2 linked regions of the Homo sapiens genome follow. The protein of the gene in region 2 interacts with the protein of the main gene of each other region in a biochemical or structural test. Each region holds a gene or a part of one and is shown on either strand. Other genes may lie near its edges.

Evidence for each region.
Region 1: the proteins of CDK10 (region 2) and CCNQ form a complex in vitro, tested with the Homo sapiens proteins (one study listed by IntAct).

What each region holds. Positions count from the first base shown.
Region 1 is NC_000023.11:153,592,477-153,596,283, reverse strand, and holds part of CCNQ (cyclin-Q), read left to right. Parts: intron 1-96; coding exon 97-280; intron 281-1,604; coding exon 1,605-1,737; intron 1,738-3,550; coding exon 3,551-3,778; intron 3,779-3,807. UniProt on the Homo sapiens protein: Activating cyclin for the cyclin-associated kinase CDK10.
Region 2 is NC_000016.10:89,689,529-89,693,335, reverse strand, and holds part of CDK10 (cyclin-dependent kinase 10), read right to left. Parts: intron 2,784-3,807; coding exon 2,712-2,783; intron 1,894-2,711; coding exon 1,791-1,893; intron 1,531-1,790; coding exon 1,449-1,530; intron 888-1,448; coding exon 820-887; intron 63-819; coding exon 10-62; intron 1-9. UniProt on the Homo sapiens protein: Cyclin-dependent kinase that phosphorylates the transcription factor ETS2 (in vitro) and positively controls its proteasomal degradation (in cells).

The sequences.
Region 1 (3,807 bases), on a different chromosome or scaffold from region 2:
GTTGTACCTGCTAGGGCCCATTCCAATGGCTCCCCTCACTGGAGCAGTGAGCCAGCGCTGGATTGAAGTCCTCTCTTGCCTGCTTTCTCTCCGCAGGTGTCAAGCTAGGGATGCGGTCCATTCCCATTGCCACTGCTTGCACCATTTACCATAAGTTCTTTTGCGAGACCAACCTGGACGCCTATGACCCTTACCTGATTGCCATGTCTTCAATTTACTTGGCCGGCAAAGTGGAAGAGCAGCACCTGCGGACTCGTGACATCATCAATGTGTCCAACAGGTAATGGCATTTGGCTGGGCTCCTGATCTCCACCCGGTGGGGGGGACGGGCAGGGAAGGCTCCTATGGGGCCCTGCCCACCAGGTGCCAGCAATGGAGCTTGGAAGGAAGTACCTGGATGGCCTTGAACCAGGCAGGGCCAGAAACAGTAGCAGCAAACGTGAGAAGGAGCCTGATGTCAGAGGCCAGTGGGGTCTGTGAGAGAAACGCTGGGCCAGATTATGGGGAGCCTCGAAAGCTGGATGGAGGGCAGAGGCGGGGCTTCAGCAGAGGGAGCTTGGAGAGGCATGTCAAAGAAGATTCTGTGGAAGTCTTAGACAGGGATGGCTGCAGGCAGAAGAGCTTGCCTGCAGCGGGAGGGTGCAGACCCAGCCAGGTGGTAGGTCCCAGTTGCTTAGGAGCCTCGCCCTGCTGTGGGTGTGGCGTGGGCATGGCACAGCCGGCCCAAGCAGGTGTGTTCCTGCTGGGGCAGAATGCAGGGTCTTCGCCAAGGCGAGGGAAAGACGGTCTGGGAAATACAAAACTGAGAAATGTTCACTTTTTGGAGTATATCATTCCCATGAGAGGCTTAAACATGTTCCTTGGATGGCTGGACGTGGTGGCTCACGCCTGTGATCCCAGCACTTTGGGAGGCCGAGGCGGGTGGATCGCTTGAGCCCAGGAGTTCAAGACCAGCCTGGTCAACATGGTGAAACCTCGTCTCTACCAAAAATACAAAAATTAGCCGGGCGTGGTGGCGCATGCCTGTGGTTCCAGCTGCTCGGGTAGCTGAGGCGGGAGGATCGCTTGAGCCCAGGAGGTCAAGGCTGCAGTGAGCTGTGGCTGCACCACTGTACTCCAGCCTGAAAGGCAGAGCAAGACCCTGTCTCAAAAAGTAAAAAGTAAAAATAAGTTAAAAAAATACGTTCCTTGGGCCCAGAGTGAGAGCCCCGGGCATTGCCACCTCAGGTGATGAAGACTCCCTAATGCCGGGCTGAGTATAACAGGAAGCACAACCGACTTGGCATGCTCAAGCTTCCGGTTCCTCTGGAGCCATCGCCAACAGCCAGTCTTTGCACTTGACATTTTGCTGAATGATAGCGGACAGCCCATCTGGCTAAAACTAGGAGCTGGCTTCTTTCCTCTGTTGGTTACTGTTTTCATTCTCTACACTAGATGTGGAGATGAAGAATTTTTGTATAAAAACCCAAATAAAATGACCCTCCATGAATCTGCAGATGGACGATGTAGTTTGCATCTGGACATTGTGTGACTTAAGCAATTTGAGCCATCCAGTGCTCAGGAGACTGCCCTGGCTGCTGAAGCATTGCCATTTCTCTGCGCAGGTACTTTAACCCAAGCGGTGAGCCCCTGGAATTGGACTCCCGCTTCTGGGAACTCCGGGACAGCATCGTGCAGTGTGAGCTTCTCATGCTGAGAGTTCTGCGCTTCCAGGTCTCCTTCCAGCATCCACACAAGGTACATACTGGGGAACTGGTGCCTGTTTGGAGAGGCTCAAGCCATGGTCTCTGTTCTTTATCCCAAAAGTGCATCCCATCTCATACTCGAGAGCACAGCACAGAAGGAGAGCAGGGCTGCGGCTGGGAACTGGGTCTCCTGGCTCTGTGTTTGTGGCTGGGTTGGCCGCCCGGCCTCTCCCGTCCCACCCCTGTGGGTTTTCTCAGCCAATTCTCATTTCAGCTTCTGCCTTTCTGCCTGCTCACCTGTGGGCGGGGTCCGTGCTGCCCGCTGAAGCTGTGGCAGCTCCTGTGGTCCATATAGATGGTGTGCACGCTGGGCCTCGGGGAAGCAGGCTGGTTTTGTGACCGGCCAGAGTCCCCGTCCCCAGGGGATGCTGTGATGCCTCGGAGCACGCCTCCAGCTCAGCTGTGCTTAGGAAGCCATGGGGAAAGCCAAATCGCTTGAGTCAAGCAGCATGCTTTAACTTCTAGGAATGTGTGAGTCTCAACAGAAGAACCATTTCAAACAGCAGTAAAAGGGAAAAGTGGAACGCTTAGGCGACTGGCACACGATGCTCTGGGCACCGCAGCTCCATGCACGGGCAGCTCAGAAGGCTGGCCGGAGACAGAGATGGAGGAGTTGTGGTTTGGGGCTCTGGGCTAGGAGTTTCATTCTTTTTCATCGGAACTCTTCCTGAGATCATTGTAGATTCCCATGCAGTTGTGACATGTACCCTTAGCCCAGTCTCCCCCAGGGGTAACACAGCCAGGATGCCAAAACCAACACAGTCCACTGGCATCCTCACTTCCACTTGTATTCCTGTGTGTATATTTTTCTGTTCCATTTTATCACGACTCCGTTCACGGACCTACCACCACAGCCAAGGTGAGAGACGGTTCCACCCGCATGGGCCCTTCGTGTTGCCTTTATAATCTTGCCTCCAGCCTTCCACACTCCCACCTCAGTACCTGGAAAGCCCTGGTCTGGGATTTCTGCGCAGTAGTGTCTTAGTGGGCAGAATGCTTGCTGAGCATCCTGGGGGAAGGTGGGAGATGCCCTGGTGGCTGCAGGGTGGAGTTGTCAAGGCGACAGGGCTTAGGAAAGAGCAGCACTCAGACCTCAAGGGGTGTGTGATCTGTGCCCAGATGGGGAACTGATAGCTTGGTGTGGCTGGGAGCCTGCCAGCCCCTTCCCCTCCTTCCAGTCAGGGCTGGGGTGGAAAGTAACCTATGTATCCCTCCTGCATGGTGTGCTGGGGTCACACGCATGTGTGTTCCAGACTGTCCAGAGAGCTCGCAGCATCTGTCTTATTGTGTGAGGTTCTGGCAAAATGTCAGTGTTCTGAGAGCAGGAGCTGGCAGCTGGGCTGGGAGGTCATTTGGATGTTGTGGCCGAGGACAGCATGTGCCCTTGGCAGCAGGCCAGATGCATGGGGAGCAGCACCTTCTGTTCTGCCCATGAAGAGGGTGCTTTCCGGAGCACCAGGCCCCGAGGAATTTCATGGTGGCCAGAGCGGGCCCTGTGGTGGAGAGGGACTGTGGTGGGGGTGGCCCTCGTAGGTTTCCCTAGAGCTGGGTCTGGAGGGTGAGAGTGGGCAGGTGCATACGGTGAGCTGGTTTCAGGCAGAGGGCTCAGCAAGTGCGAAGGCCCTAGATGGGGTTTGCTGGAAGGCAGGGTGGGATCGGCAGGAGATGGGGCCAGCAGAAGGCCTTGGGGCTTCTTCCTGAGGGACATGGAAGCTGCTGGAGGGTTGGAGCAGGTGCTGATATGATTATGTCAGCATGAGGAGAGCAGCTGGTGGGCCTAAAGGCTGACACACGTGTCTTTGCAGTACCTGCTCCACTACCTGGTTTCCCTCCAGAACTGGCTGAACCGCCACAGCTGGCAGCGGACCCCTGTTGCCGTCACCGCCTGGGCCCTGCTGCGGGACAGCTACCATGGGGCGCTGTGCCTCCGCTTCCAGGCCCAGCACATCGCCGTGGCGGTGCTCTACCTGGCCCTGCAGGTCTACGGAGTTGAGGTGCCCGCCGAGGTCGAGGCTGAGAAGCCGTGGTGGCAGGTGAGGTGGCTGCTTGGCACACTGGACGT
Region 2 (3,807 bases):
TGCACCCACCTGTCTTCACACAACCCTTGTCGGTCATGAGCAAGTTGGAAACCTTCAGGTCCCTGTGATGGAAAAACAGTGGCAGGTGGCTCCCAGAGGGCCACAGGGGCTGAGAGCTCCCCCACGGCACCAATGCCCGTAGACTTCCTGCACGTTTCCTCAGCTTTGGGCTTTTTAGTATCTTTTTTTTTTTTTTTTGAGACAGAGTCTCACTCTGTCGCCCAGGCTGGAGTGCAGTGGAGCAATCCCGGCTCACTGCAAGCTCCGCCTCCCGGGTTCACGCCATTCTCCTGCCTCGGCCTCCCAAGTAGCTGGGACTACAGGCGCCCGCCACCACGCCCGGCTAATTTTTTTGTATTTTTAGTAGAGATGGGGTTTCACTGTGTTAACAAGGATGGTCTCGATCTCCTGACCTCGTGATCCGCCTGCCTCGGCCTCCCAAAGTGCTGGGATCACAGGCGTGAGCCACTGTGCCCGGCGTAGTATCTTTATTATTTTTTTTTTCATTAACTCTTACATGCTGTTGATGTTTGGACCTTTTAAAAATCGGAGTGCATGCCTGGGTGTGGTGGCTCCCACCTGTAATCCCAGCACTTTGGGAGGCCAAGGTGGGTGGATCACTTGAGCCCAAGTGTGTGAGACCAGCCTGGGCAACACAGAGAGACCCCTTCTCTATTTTAGAAAAAAACACAAATGGAGTGCGAGCAGCGGGCAGGCTGCTGCAGCTGGGAACCCCTGAGCTTTTAGTAACTCCACAGGGGCAGCAGAGTTAGGCCTCAGCCGAATTTGTGCTTCCAACTCTGCCTAGCTGTCACCCACCTGTGGATAATGAAGTTCCTGTGCAGATACTGGAGGCCCCGGAGCACCTGCAGCACGATGCACTTGACCTGTGCAGAGGGTCAGAGGTACCAGTCAGGGTGAGCCTGCAGGGAAGCCCAGCTGGGCCCTGCCACACCCACACTGGCCAGCAGGACTAGCAGTCCCAATAGCCCAGGAAACCAGTGCCCTCAGAAGGCTCTCGGCCCCGGGGCTGCACGCTCCCAGCAGCCCAGGAAACCAGTGCCCTCACAAGGCTCTTGGCCCCGGGGCTGCACTCTCCCAGCAGCCCAGAAAACCAGTGCCCTCAGAAGGCTCTCCGCCCAGGGCTCCCCGCTCCCAGCAGCCCAGGAAACCAGTGCCCTCAGAAGGCTCTCAGCCCCGGGGCTGCCTGCTCCCAACAGCCCAGGAAACCAGTGCCCTCATAAGGCTCTCGGCCCTGGGGCTGCCCGCTCCCAGCAGATGCCCCCACCACAGGAATTCCACCTCACTGAAGCTCGCTGAAACACTGGGAGGTGGAGGCAGAGGCAGCAGCAGCTCTTCAAGTCCCCAAGTGCCCTGTTTCGTTATAAATGTGCACCACAAGGGCCCATGAAGCCCATTCCCCCACCCCAGGCCCCTCTGCCACGCACCTGAGCCTCCGAGAAGGGTGTTGGCATATTCTCCAGGAGGCTGGCCAGGTCCTGCTCACAGTAACCCATCACCAGGAAGATGCTGGAAGAAACAGAAGATGCATGCCACTCTCCGGCCTTCTCCTAAGGGGTGGAAGTGGAGCCTCCCCTGCTGCAGGAGGGGACATGGGCAGGACAACCTGTGTCCCCCTCAGACAATGGGCTGAGCCAGGCGGTGAGGTGGGGTCATCTCTTCTCTGACAACCTCATGCCCAGTGACACTCAGTCCTCGCTCTGTGCAACACCTCTAGCCCAAGACACATGCTCCCTAGGGCCCAATGTGCAGACCAGGAGACCACGTACCTCTCCAGGTGGTTCCCCACAACCACCTCCTTCAGCTCCACGATGTTCGGATGACGCAGGCGGAGCAGCAGCGTGATCTCCCGCAAGCTGCTGATGGGGATGCCTGGGGAGGGAGGTGGCCTCAGCGAGCCCCACCCCAGTGATGGCGGGGAAGCCCCAACCCCAGCCACTCTTGGGCTTCACGAACACCTGATAGCAGGTGCTGCAGTGTCCCCACCTCAGGGAGAATTGGGGCGACCCCAATAAGCATTTTTTTTTTTTTGAGACGGAGTTTCGCTCGTTGCCCAGGCTGGAGTGCAATGGCACCATCTCGGCTCACCGCAACCTCTGCCTCCCGGGTTCAAGCAATTCTCCTGCCTCAGCCTCCCTAGTAGCTGGGATTACAGGCATGTGCCACCACGCCTGGCTAATTTTGTATTTTTAGTAGAGATGGGGTTTCTCCATGTTGGTCAGGCTGGTCTTGAACTGCCGACCTCAGGTGATCCGCCTGCCTCGGCCTCCCAAAGTGCTGGGATTACAGGCATGAGCCACCATGCCCGGCCCAATAAGCACTTTTAACTCTTCCTTGACCAAATACGAATCGGCACCTCTCTAAACACCGTGGACATCTATGTGGGGCATGGCAGGGCCCTGCCTGCACAGGCAGGTGCTGGGGGTGGAGGGGACAGCAGAGCTGAGCCTGCAGTGAGGTGGCCTCACCAGACAGGAGGGGGAGGAGGGGATGGAGACTGCAGAGCCCTCCTGGCAGACAGCTGAGGCTGCGTGTGGACCTGGGGGTGATGTGCTGGGCCACACCAGAACCCTCCCAGAGGCCGGCCCCCGCTACAAGCACCGTGCAGTCGCTCTGAGGAAACTTCAGGTAACTCACATCCTTCTGCCTCCTCCCAGTGCGAGGTCCCAACACCCCAATTTCCTGCTCACCATCCTTCTCCTTGTCCATCCGCACCTTCTTCAGTGCGACAATCTCATCTGTCTGGGTGTCCCGGGCCCGATCTGGAATGGAAACACATTGGTGATGACATCATCTCGATGCCCCTCGTGGGCTCCCTAGCGCTGAACGGGAGGCTCTCCCTGAGCCACAGGGGTCCCCGTTCTTTCCTCTGACAACCTCATGCCCAGTGACACTCAGTCCCCACTCTGTGCAACGCCCCTAGCCCGAGACGCGTTCCCCCGGAGGGTTTCCTCATTTGAACTGGGCAGGGGGTGCCCAACTTTGCTCTGTGCTGGACCCTGGCCTCCAGCCACTCAGTTCTGTGGCTCCAGGCTCTCCATGTCCTCCTTAGCATGCAGATCACTGCTTTGTGCTCTCTTGTAATGTCCTAAAAGCAAATAAGGTACTCTATGCAGAAAAAAGCAAACCTTATTTTGTGTGAAGATGGCTCTACAAAACATCCTGCTAATGTGTGCAGCTTCCAGAATGACCTACGCCAATTTCACATCTGTTATAACCTTTAGTTGTGTGTGGTGTTTTTGGTTTTTTTGAGACAGGGTCTCACTCTGTTGCCAAGGCTGGGGTGCAGTGGCGTGATCACAGCTCACTGCAGCCTCAAACTCCTAGGCTTGGCCGGGTGCAGTGGCTCACACCTGTAATCCCAGTGCTTTGGGAGGCCGAGGCAGGAGGATCATTTGAGCCCAGAAGTTCAAGACCAGCCTGGGCAACATAGGGAGATCCCATCTCTACCAAAAATTTAAAAATTAGCTGGGTGTGCTTATGTACTCTTGTGGTCCCAGATACTCAGGAGGCTGAGGTGGGAGGATCACTTGAGCCTAGGAGGTCGAGGCCGCAGTGAGCTATGATCATGCCACTGCACTCCAGTCTGGGCAATAGAGCAAGACCCATCTCAAAAACAAACAAAAAGAAAAAACACCTGGGCTCAGGTGACTCCTCCAGAGTTGCTGAGGTGATAGACATGAGCACCATGTCCAGCTCCTGCTGCTTCTGGAAAGTTCTGTATTTTATTTCTCTAACAGTTCTGTGTACTCTGCAGTGACACGTTTGGATTATGGGCATTAGCAA